Linked DNA regions of Homo sapiens: region 2 is linked to region 1. The links come from fine-mapping of genetic effects on gene expression. Tissue or cell type: tibial artery. Region 1 holds a variant in brackets; the other region holds the start of a gene. All regions are shown on one strand. Distances are between the middles of the regions.

Region 1 (5,256 bases):
AGTACAAGAGTTTGTTTTCATTGATGTTTAGTAATTGGTTGTTTCCGGTTTAGGGCCATTTCAATAATGCTGCTATGAGCATTCTTATACATGTGTTTTGGCATACATGTGTACATCTGTCTGTTGAATATATACCCAGGAATGAAATTCTAGGTCATACAGTATGTTATACATATATTTAGCTTTTGTAGACACTGAAACAGTTTTCTAAACTGGTTGTACCGATTTACAGAAATTCCCACCAGCACCATATGCAAGTTCTAATTGTTTTACATCCTTGTCAACACTTTATACTGTCAGTCTCCTTAATTTTGGCTACTCTGGAGGGTATCTCATTATAGTTTTAATTTTTATTTCCCTGAGGACTAGTGATGTTGAACACAGCACATTTTGCCTTTTGGATAACCTCTTGTGATGGGTCTAGGCAAGTCTTTTGCCTGTTTTCTGTTGGGTTGCCTGGAGATGAGTTTTTTCCCAGGTCTTCCCCATTCTGTAACCTCCTGCCTTTTCACTTTGCTAATGGTATCTTTTAATGAGTGCATGTTCCTAATTTTACTAATTATTCTTTTCCTTTATGGTTAGTACTTTTTTTGTGTCTTGTTTAAGAAATCTTTCTATTTAAATCTGTTGTCATCCTGGAAGTGATTTTGTTAGTTAAGGGTAAAGATTCATTTTTTCTTTCCACATAGGTATTTAGCTGACCATTTATTGAAGACATTCTCTTTCCACTGCTCTGTAGTGCCACTTTTGTTACAAATCAAATGTCTTTGTACATGTGGATATGTGTATAATCTCTGTGTCCATCCTTGCACAGTATCACACTGTCTTATTTACTGTGGCTTTATCAGAAGTCTCGATGCACAGTTCCAACCTATTTCTTCAGGATTGTCTTGGTTATTCTTGGCCCTTTGCATTTACATACAAGTTTCAGAATCAGGTTGTCTGTTTTCACCTGCTGGGATTTTGACAGGGATTGCATTGAATCTGCAGACCACTTTAGAATAAATTGTTACCTGGACAATATTTGAGTCTTCCAGGCCATTGACATTCACATGTATCCACTTATTTTAGACTTTTCATTTCTCAGGTTTTTGTGTAGAGGCTTATATGCCTTTCATTTGTTTATTTTATTTTGTTTTATTTTGAGGCAGGGTCTTGCTCTCTTGCCCAGGCTGGAGTGCAGTGGTACAATCTTGGCTCACTGCAACCTCCGTCTCCCAGGTTCAAGTAATTCTTCTGCCTCAGCCTCTGGAGTAGCTGGGATTACAGGTGCGTGCCCCCACACTTGGCCAATTTTTGTATTTATAGCAGAGATTGGGTTTCACCATGTTGGCCAGGCTGGTCTCAAACTCCTGACCTCAGGTGATCCACCTGCCTCGGCCTCCCAAAGTGCTGGGATTACAGGCATGAGCCACTGCACCCAGCCTGCTTGTTTATTATTTTTTGTTTGTTTTTTGAGACAGAGTTTTGCTCTTGTTGCCCAGGCTGGAGTGCAATGGCATGATCTCGGCTCACCGCAACCTCCACTTCCTGGATTCAAGTGATGCTCCTGCCTCAGCCTCCCGAGTAGCTGGGATTACAGGCATATGCCACCACGCCCAGCTAATTTTGTATTTTTTTTAGTAGAGACGGGGTTCTCTGTGTCCGTCAGGCTGGTCTTGATCTCCCGACCTCAGGTGATCCATCTGCCTCAGCCTCCCAAAGTGCTGAGATTACAGGCGTGAGCCACTATGCCCGGCCTGTTTATTCTTATTTGATGTTTTATTGATGGTATTGAAATGGCATCTTTTTATAATTTCTTTTTTTAAATTGATTTTTATTTTTTGTGGAAATGGCATCTCGCTAAGTTACCCAGGCTGCTCTTGAACTCCTGGCCTCAAGTGATCCTCCTGCCTCAGCCTCCCAAAGTGCTGGGACTATGGGCATGAGCCAGGGTGCCCTGACAGTAGGTAAAATAAAACAATTTTATTTCCTTACTGTTTGTTGCTAGTATAAAGAAATATAATTTTGTTTACGTTGAGCTTTTATCCACCTATTAGTTCTATTAGTTTATCATGTATCACTTTTATAAATAATGATTTACGGTCACTAAGTAGCCACTTTTTCCTGTGTGGACTGGCTAAAAAAGGAAGAACAAAAATCTGTCTCTTGTGTGCAGGCTTCCCTTCCGGTGCAGGAGTACCTGTTTATGCCATTCGACCAGGCTCACAAGCAGTATGAGACAGCCAGACACCTGCCGCCTCCCCTCTATGTCCTCTTTGTTCAGGCCACTGCGTATGGGCAGGCCTGTGGTGAGTATGGGGCCTGGGTGAGGACAAGGGGCTATGGGAGCAGCAGCTGTGGCCGAGTGAATCAGTTGGAAGCAGTACCTGCTCAGGAAATTTCTCAGTCCTGCCCGAAGCCCTC[A/G]GGTGACAGAAGCTTTCTTCCCTCTGCATTGCCCAGCATGGCTGCTCTGACCAGCTGGCCTAAGGCTGGATTAACCTGATGGGTATTTCACAATGGGTGGCTTTGAGTCATTCGTGAGCCTGGCTGGACAGCTCTTGGGTGCAGAACCCAGGCAGCCTGTCTGGGCTCCCAGGTGCTCACCCCATCAAGGCACGCTTGGCAGTTAGATCAGTGCCTCTTGCTCTGCTTCAGGGTGGGGGTGCCTGGTGAATACAGGTCTCAGCCAGCTCTCCCAGGCTTTCACCATGCCTTGAATCAGGCTGCATGTCTTTGTTGTGAATTTCCAGGTTAGATGATATGTCCTCATTAAGCTTGAGGGCAGCCTGTGACTCTGCTAGGGTTTTGAGAAAATTTTGGAGACTCTGCCTTTTGCCCTAATGCAGCTTTCACCCAGCACCTACATTTTCTCCCCCACCCCACCCCACCTCATCAGACAGACATACACCGCACCAGTGCTTGCTTCTCCTCCCACCTTGGGCACCAACACATTACTGTCTCTTCTTGTGTCTTCCTCGTCCTTCTGGTCCTCCCCTCCCCTTTGTTCTCCCTCCTGTTTCCATCATCAGCTCATATGAAATCCTCCCAGCCCCCTAGACAGGGTGAGTAATTTTCTTTTCTTTTATGTTTAAAATCGGCCTGTTCCATTCTGATGTTCTTGTAGAATGCTAATATTAAATGGCTGAAAAAAATAGTCTGTTGTTTGCCAGTGCTTGATGGGAGCAACTAGTTGCTTGGGGTGAAGGGTGGTGATTCACATAGGGTTGCCATAGATAAGGCAGTGGTCAGCCACTTGGGGGAAGTTTGCCATCCCTCCTTAGTGTGGCTAGGCAAACCGTTTCAGGCTCTTGGGACCATATGTACCCTTAAGAATGGAGTTGGACGGTGGTGGCCTGTCTGACCTCACAACGCTAGACCCTCAGAGGGGGTCTCAAGACATCACTCAATGAGGTGTCATACCTGGTGTATGCAACAGGCTGTTAGCTCATGTGCTGGAGAGGCCAAGCTTAAGTTGAACAGACCTGGTCTTGAATCCTGGTTTATCAGCCTTATAGCTGTGATGTCTAGCTTCTCTGAGCCTTAAGTTTCTCATCTATAAATGGCTATAATGTATTACTCCTGTAGGGTTGTTGTGAGTATTAAAAAAAATTTTTTTTTTTGAGATGGAGTCTGGCTCTGTTGCCCAGGCTGGAGTGCAGTGGCATGATCTTGGCTCACTGCAACCTCTGCTTCCCAGGTTCAAGCAATTCTCCCTGCCTCAGCCTCCCAAGTAGCTGGGATTACAGGCACCCACCACCGTGCCTGGCTAATTTTTATATATTTAGTAGAGACAGAGTTTCACCATGTTGGCCAGGCTGGTCTCGAACTCCTGATCTCAGGTGATCCACTCACCTTGGCCTCCCAACCAGACATGAGCCACCACACCCAGCCTAAAAATTAATTTTTAATAATTTTATAATTAAAATTACAAGCATCAGCTCATTCAGTCCCCACCACTAATGGGGCAGCTACTGTTTTTCTTTTTTCTTTTTTTTTTGAGACAGAGTCTCACTCTGTTGCCCAGGCTGCAGTGCAGTAGCATGATCTTGGTTCACAGTAACCTCCACCTCCTGGATTCAAGCAATTCTCCTGTCTCAGCCTCCCAAGTAGATGGGGTTACAGGCACATGCCACCACACACAGCTAATTTTTGTATTTTTAGTACAGACGGGATTTTGCCATGTTGGCCAGGCTGGTCTCTGAACTCCTGACCTCAGGTGATCCACCTGCCTCGGCCTCCCAAAGTGCTGAGATTACAGGTGTGAGCCACTGCACCCGGCAGCTACTATTTTTCAAGTCCCCTTTTCATAGATACAGAAACTGAGGCTCAGACAGTGACATAACTTTCCAGGTCATGTGTTTGAGAATTGGTTAGGCAGGGACTCAGGTCTGGAACTGGACTGCAAGATCCAAGTTCCTATTCACTGTCCTACTGCCTCCCAGTTAAGTGAGACAATGGCAGCCATGTGCTTGGTATAGTGTAGAATAGAGAATAAGCACTTAGGTGAGAGTCATTGTTTCTGGGATGTGGACAGGTGTGGATTTCTGGGTGAGAACCTCTAAGACAACTGGCAGAGGAGTTCCATGTGGCTTTAGGCCCTCAGTTTGAATTTCTGTGCTTTGGTGTGCACCAAAAAAGAGAGGCATTCACTGCTAGTTTCAGGTGATGCTGGTTTAGGAATTTGTACTTAAGTTCTCTGTTCTCAGTAAATGACGGAAAAAAAAGCTTAAGTGTCCCACCTTGTTTCCCTTCATCTGGAGCAAGGACTTTTGCCCTTCCACCCTTAGTCAGCAAGGAGCTGGGCAGAGGTGGGAGAAATGCAGCCCCAGAGCTGGCCTACTCACACTGCTTAGCAGCTTTCCTCAGCAGCTTTCCTAACAGACTTCTTCTTGCCCCCCAGATAAGACGTTATCTGTGGCAATCGAAGGCAGTGTGGATGAAGCCAAGGCTCTGTTCAAACCTCCAGAGGACTCCCAAGGTAATGTGGTGGTTGGGATTCGTCCCCCAGGGACACCAGGTCACCATCCAAGGGCAGTCCTGGTCTTTGGAGAACTAGCTGGACTAGTTCTGTGTAGCAGGAAGCTTGACTTGAATGTCTTAGCACCCTGGAGTAGACAGGAAAGAGAGCTCACTTCCCGGAGTCACAAGGTGCGGCCCGTGGATTTCAGCCCTGCCACTCACTAGCTGACTGACCCCGAGGAAGGTATTTAATATTTCAGAGCCTCAGTTTATTCCTTTGTGAAAACAGATAGTAACACCTCATGTAGGATTGTT
Region 2 (5,000 bases), 22 kb before region 1:
GGTGCGACACATGGAGTCTAGGATCATGATCCCCTTGAAGATCTCGCCTCTGCAGTGATGCTGCCTACACCTCCACCTCCTTCCCCTTCTCCCTCAGGCAACCCCGACAGACAGTGGCACTCCTGGTCCTGCTGTCTTGGTTTTGTCTTGGCTCTGGGAGGACTCTGAGGGGCAGTGCTCAGTTCAGACAAGGGGGAACTGAAGGCTGACAAGTTCTGAGGATTACAGCTCTGCCCAGGCCCTTTCTACTTTCCCTGCCTGCCTCCCTCCCCCTGCTAGAAGTAGTTTCTGATTTCCCTGAATGAAAGATAGTGATCTTTTAGGCCTTCATTTATCTTCTAAAATTCCTCATCTCAAGGCCACCAGTCCCCAGTTATCACCCTTGGAAATCCTCTGTTTAGCTTAGTTGCACAAAAGGTAGTATGTCCAGTGGCTAGAGGTGGGGTGGGAAGAGAGGAGGCCAGGCCAGGCCCTCAGGAATTCCCTGGTTTCCACTGGGCCACCCACTTGCTGGACAGTCTGAGCCAAGTCCCTCCTGCTGGAGAAAAGCCTGGAACTGCCAAAACAAAAAAACAAATACAAACAAACCTCGTCACCACGGTCAGGAGGAGGTTCAGACATTCTGCCCAGAGGGGCTGGGGAAAGGGATGGGAGCCAGGAAAGATTTAGGGGCAGGAGACAGACACGTAACAGGAACTCGGAAGGTAGAACTTAGAATTCAGAACTTGGGTTTCAATTGTAGAATTTGGAATCTGGAATACAGAATTGGGAAGAAGAACAGAGATGACAAAAGACCACTTGAAGAGAGGTTCCTAATACTAGACAGATGGAGAGTGGCTTGGCTGTTTCCCCCTGCATATTGGGGTTGAAAACTTAAATGTGTAGTTCCAGTCCTTCTATGCAGAGTCTCTCCTGCCCTCCCTCCTTCCTGCAGGCAAATATACAAGCTAGACCCTGTTCCCTCACCCTGTATCCTGTCTCCCCTAATTGACATTCTATCAGCCCAACCCTCATTCTGCAGGGCCACCTGGTGTGTGGAGGTGGCGGGAGGGGTCAGTGACTCTGGGGGTCTCCTCAGTGACCCCCATACCTCATCATGAACCCTTGGGTAGCTTGATTCTGCCTACCATCCAGGAAAACTTGTGCTGGAATTGCTGATGGAAACAATTAAATATTTACTATAAATCAGTGTCTTTTCTTCATCTGCAAGGAACTTTAGCAGGTGCCTGAGGCAGGGCACAGTAGAGCTGGTGGGCTTAGTCCCACATGGCAGATCTACCCTCCTGGAGGGTACTGTGTTCTTGAGCTATTCTCAACAGTCAGTACTGGTTGGGTGCAGTGGCTCACGCCTGTAATCCCAGCATTTTGGAAGTCCGAGGTGGGCAGATCACTTGAGTGAGGTCAGGAGTTCAAGACCAGCCTGGGCAACATGGTGAAACCCTGTCTCTACTAAAAATACAAAAATTAGCTGGGCATGGTGGTGCATGCCTGTAATCCCAGCTACTTAGGAGGCTGAGGCAGGAGAATCCTTTAAACCCTGGAGTCGGAGTTTGCAGTGAGCGGGGATTGCGCCACTGCACTTCAGCCTGGGTGAGAGAGCAAAACTCTGTCTCAAATAAAAATAAAAATAAAAAAGAGCCAGTATTTTCCTCCTTGCTCCTGGGAAGGAGAAGGAACTGGCCCCGTACAACCAGGGATTCAGGACACGTGTTACTAGCTCCAGATGAGGATTTACACGAAAAAATCCTGGGCCTTGTTTGTACAGTTCATGCCAGGGGTAGGAAATACCTGAAGCTTTCAAATACTGCGTTAGAGTTGTGACTCTGTCCTGGGCAAGTCAGGCCTAAAATGGAGAAACTGGTGATGCACTCCTCAAAAAGCCAAGTGTAAAATGAGGTTAATGCCCTCCCTGACTTGTTGCCTTCACTGGCGTGGCATATTATGGTAAAAATAATAATTAAGAAGTAAGGTTATGCAGGCAAATCCTCTAGCGCCGAAATCTTCCCCGCCGCGCTACCAGGTTCTTTCGTGTTATCTTGGACATAACACAACATTAATTCAACTACTCGGTGGAGCGCCCACTAGCTGCTGGACACTCTCTTAGGCCCTGGGCACAGTGAACGAGAAGCATGTGTCTTTGTTTTTACAGTCTCACCACGCCACCACCTCCCTCGGGGGCCTCCGCGCTGAGCTTCCGGCCTCTACGCCTCGCTTCCGGTCGGCCGCCCCTTCCTTACTTCCGGTTCTCTATGGTGCGCGGGCAAGCTTTGCTCCGCCTCCGGCAGTGGCTTACTCCCGGTGCCAGGTTCTTGGAGCTGTGAGGTGAGGAGGGGACAAGGGCAGTGGGGCTGGGAGATGGGGCGGGGCTGGGCGCTCCGGGACTGAGGTGCTGATCGCCCAAAGGGCGCCCCTGGGCTGGGGTCTGACCCGGCTTCTCCTCCCTCACTACCCGCGGTCCCCGGCCTCTCGGCGCTGCGCTGTTACCTCATCCGAAAAGTGTTCGCTGCAGCATCCTCAGGCTTCACGTTGGAGCCTCTTGATTGTGGTAATGTAGCCTGATGGGGGTGGGGGTGGTGGTGATGGTAACAGCTCACATATATCGTGCTCTTCGGTGTGCCAGGCACTCTACTGTGTTGCCAAAGTCAGGATTTCCCACACTTAAGCCTTTCAGGTCCGGTCTTTGTAGGCTTTGCCAGATCAACTTACCACCTCTACTACCGTTTATTAAAAATTTGTTTGTTTGTTTGTTTTAGTATTTATTGATAATTCTTGGGTGTTTCTCGCAGAGGGGATTTGGCAGGGTCATAGGACAATAGTGGAGGGAAGGTCAGCAGATAAACAAGTGAACAAAGGTCTCTGGTTTTCCTAGGCAGAGGACCCTGCAGCCTTCCGCAGTGTTTGTGTCCCTGGGTACTTGAGATTAGGGAGTGGTGATGACTCTTAAGGAGCATGCTGCCTTCAAGCTTCTGTTTAACAAAGCACATCTTGCCCCGCCCTTAATCCATTTAACCCTGAGTGGACACAGCACATGTTTCAGAGAGCACGGGGTTGGGGGTAAGGCTATAGACCAACAGCATCCCAAGGCAGAAGAATTTCTCTCAGTACAGAACAAAATGGAGTCTCCCTTGTCCACCTCTCTCCACACAGACACAGCAACAATCCGATTTCTCTATCTTTTCCCCACATTTCCCCCCTCTCTACTAGACAAAACCGCCATCGTCATCATGGCCCGTTCTCAATGAGCTGTTGGGTACACCTCCCAGACGGGGTGGCGGCCAGGCAGAGGGGCTCCTCACCTCCCAGAAGGGGCGGCCGGGCAGAGGCGCCCCCCACCTCCCGGACGGGGTGGCGGCCAGGCGGAGGCGCCCCCCTACCCCCGACCCGACGGGGCGGCTGGCCGGGCTGGGGCTGGCCCCCACCTCCCCCCCGGACGGGGCGGCTGGCCGGGCGGGGGCTGCCCCCCACCTCCCGGACGGGGCGGCTGCTGGGTGGAGGGGCTCCTCACCTCTCAGACGGGGCAGCCGGGCAGAGACGCTCCTCACCTCCCAGACGGGGTCGCAGCCGGGCAGAGGTGCTCCTCACATCCCAGACGGGGCGGCGGGGCAGAGGTGCTCCCCACATCTGAGATGATGGGCGGCCGGGCAGAGACACTCCTCACTTCCTAGACGGGATGGGGTCCGGGAAGAGGTGCTCCTCACTTCCCAGACTGGGCAGCCGGGCAGAGGGGCTCCTCACATCCCAGATGATGGGCAGCCGGGCAGAGACGCTCCTCACTTCCCAGACGGGGTGGCGGCCGGGCAGAGGCTGCAATCTTGGCACTTTGGGAGGCCAAGGCAGGCGGCTGGGAGGTGGAGGTTGTAGCGAGCCGAGATCACGCCACTGCACTCCAGCCTGGGCACCATTGAGCACTGAGTGAACGAGACTCCGTCTGCAATCCTGGCACCTCGGGAGGCCGAGGCTGGCCGATCACTCGCGGTCAGGAGCTGGAGACCAGCCTGGCCAACACAGCGAAACCCCGTCTCCACCAAAAAATACGAAAACCAGTCAGGCGTGGCGGCGCGCGCCTGCAATTGCAGGCACTCGGCAGGCTGAGGCAGGAGAATCAGGCAGAGAGGTTCCAGTGAGCCGAGATGGCCGCAGTACAGTCCAGCTTCGGCTCGGCATCAGAGGGAGACCGTGGAGAGAGGGGGAGGGGGGAGGGGGAGGGGTTTACTAAAAATTTTTAATCCAGTCCAAATTTTTTTTTTGCAACGGGATCTCTGTTGTCAAGACTGAGTGCAGTGGCGCGATCATAGCTCACTGCAGCCTGGAACTTCTGGGCTCAAGCCATCCTCCCACCCTAGCCTCCAGAGTAGCTTGGGACCACAGGTGTGCACCGCCATACTAGGCTAATTTTAAAATGTTTTCTAAAGATGGGGTCTCGCTCTGTTGCCCACTCTGGTCTTGAACGCCTGGGCTCAAGCGATTCTCTCACCTCTGCTTGCCTTGGTTTCCCAAAGTGTTGGGATTACAGGTGTGAGCCATGGTGTTGGGCCCAGTCACTTTTTTTGTTGTTGTTGAGACTGAATCTCGCTCTGTTGCCCAGGCTGGAGTGAAGTGGCTGCGATCTCGGCTCATTGCAACCTCTGCTCCCTGGGTTCAAGTGATTCTCCTACCTCAGCCTCCTGAGTAGCTGAGATTACAGGCGCCCGCCTCCACTCCCGGCTAATTTTTGTATTTGTGGTACTGACGGGGTTTCACCATGTTGGCCAGGCTGGTCTCAAACTCCTGACCTCAGGTGATCCACCCGCCTCAGCCTCCCAAAGTGCTGGGATTACAGGCCTGAGCCACTGCGCCCAGCCAAGTCACTTTTTAAACTCAAATTTACTTTGAGAGAAAACTTGAAATCTCTCCACCAGAAATGGAAAGCTGCTTTCACTTGTTTTATGTAGAAGGTAAAAATTAATATAGTTAATATAATGCAACTAGATCATTGTTAACAAACTCTGGCTAGATTTTGT

Which allele goes with the higher level. Alleles are on the strand shown, and positions count from the first base shown. SD is a standard deviation of normalised expression in the study named.
For the expression in tibial artery of the gene that starts at base 2,236 in region 2, allele A in region 1 goes with a higher level than allele G (large effect, 1.2 SD a copy in GTEx).

What was found. PIP is the estimated chance that this variant, and not a neighbour inherited with it, causes the effect.
Region 2: it holds the start of THOC5, and the variant in region 1 is fine-mapped to the expression of THOC5 in tibial artery (GTEx, PIP above 0.99). The same link has a PIP of 0.9 or more in aorta, atrial appendage, breast, esophagus mucosa, esophagus muscle and fibroblasts.

The regions. Positions count from the first base shown.
Region 1 is chr22:29,528,866-29,534,121 of GRCh38, reverse strand. It overlaps THOC5 (THO complex subunit 5), which reads left to right. Exons shown (of 20, transcript NM_003678.5): 8 at 2,159-2,291; 9 at 4,883-4,960. Among named protein-coding and RNA genes, the nearest start is that of THOC5, 22 kb to the left of the region's middle. The variant A/G (reference allele first, on the strand shown) is at 2,407.
Region 2 is chr22:29,550,993-29,555,992 of GRCh38, reverse strand. THOC5 (THO complex subunit 5) reads left to right here and starts at 2,236. Exons shown (of 20, transcript NM_003678.5): 1 at 2,236-2,322. It overlaps NIPSNAP1 (nipsnap homolog 1), which reads left to right. Exons shown (of 10, transcript NM_003634.4): 10 at 1-1,185. The coding sequence ends at 58. RefSeq lists enhancers at 1,866-1,935, 1,319-2,016, 3,414-4,113 and a silencer at 2,336-2,525.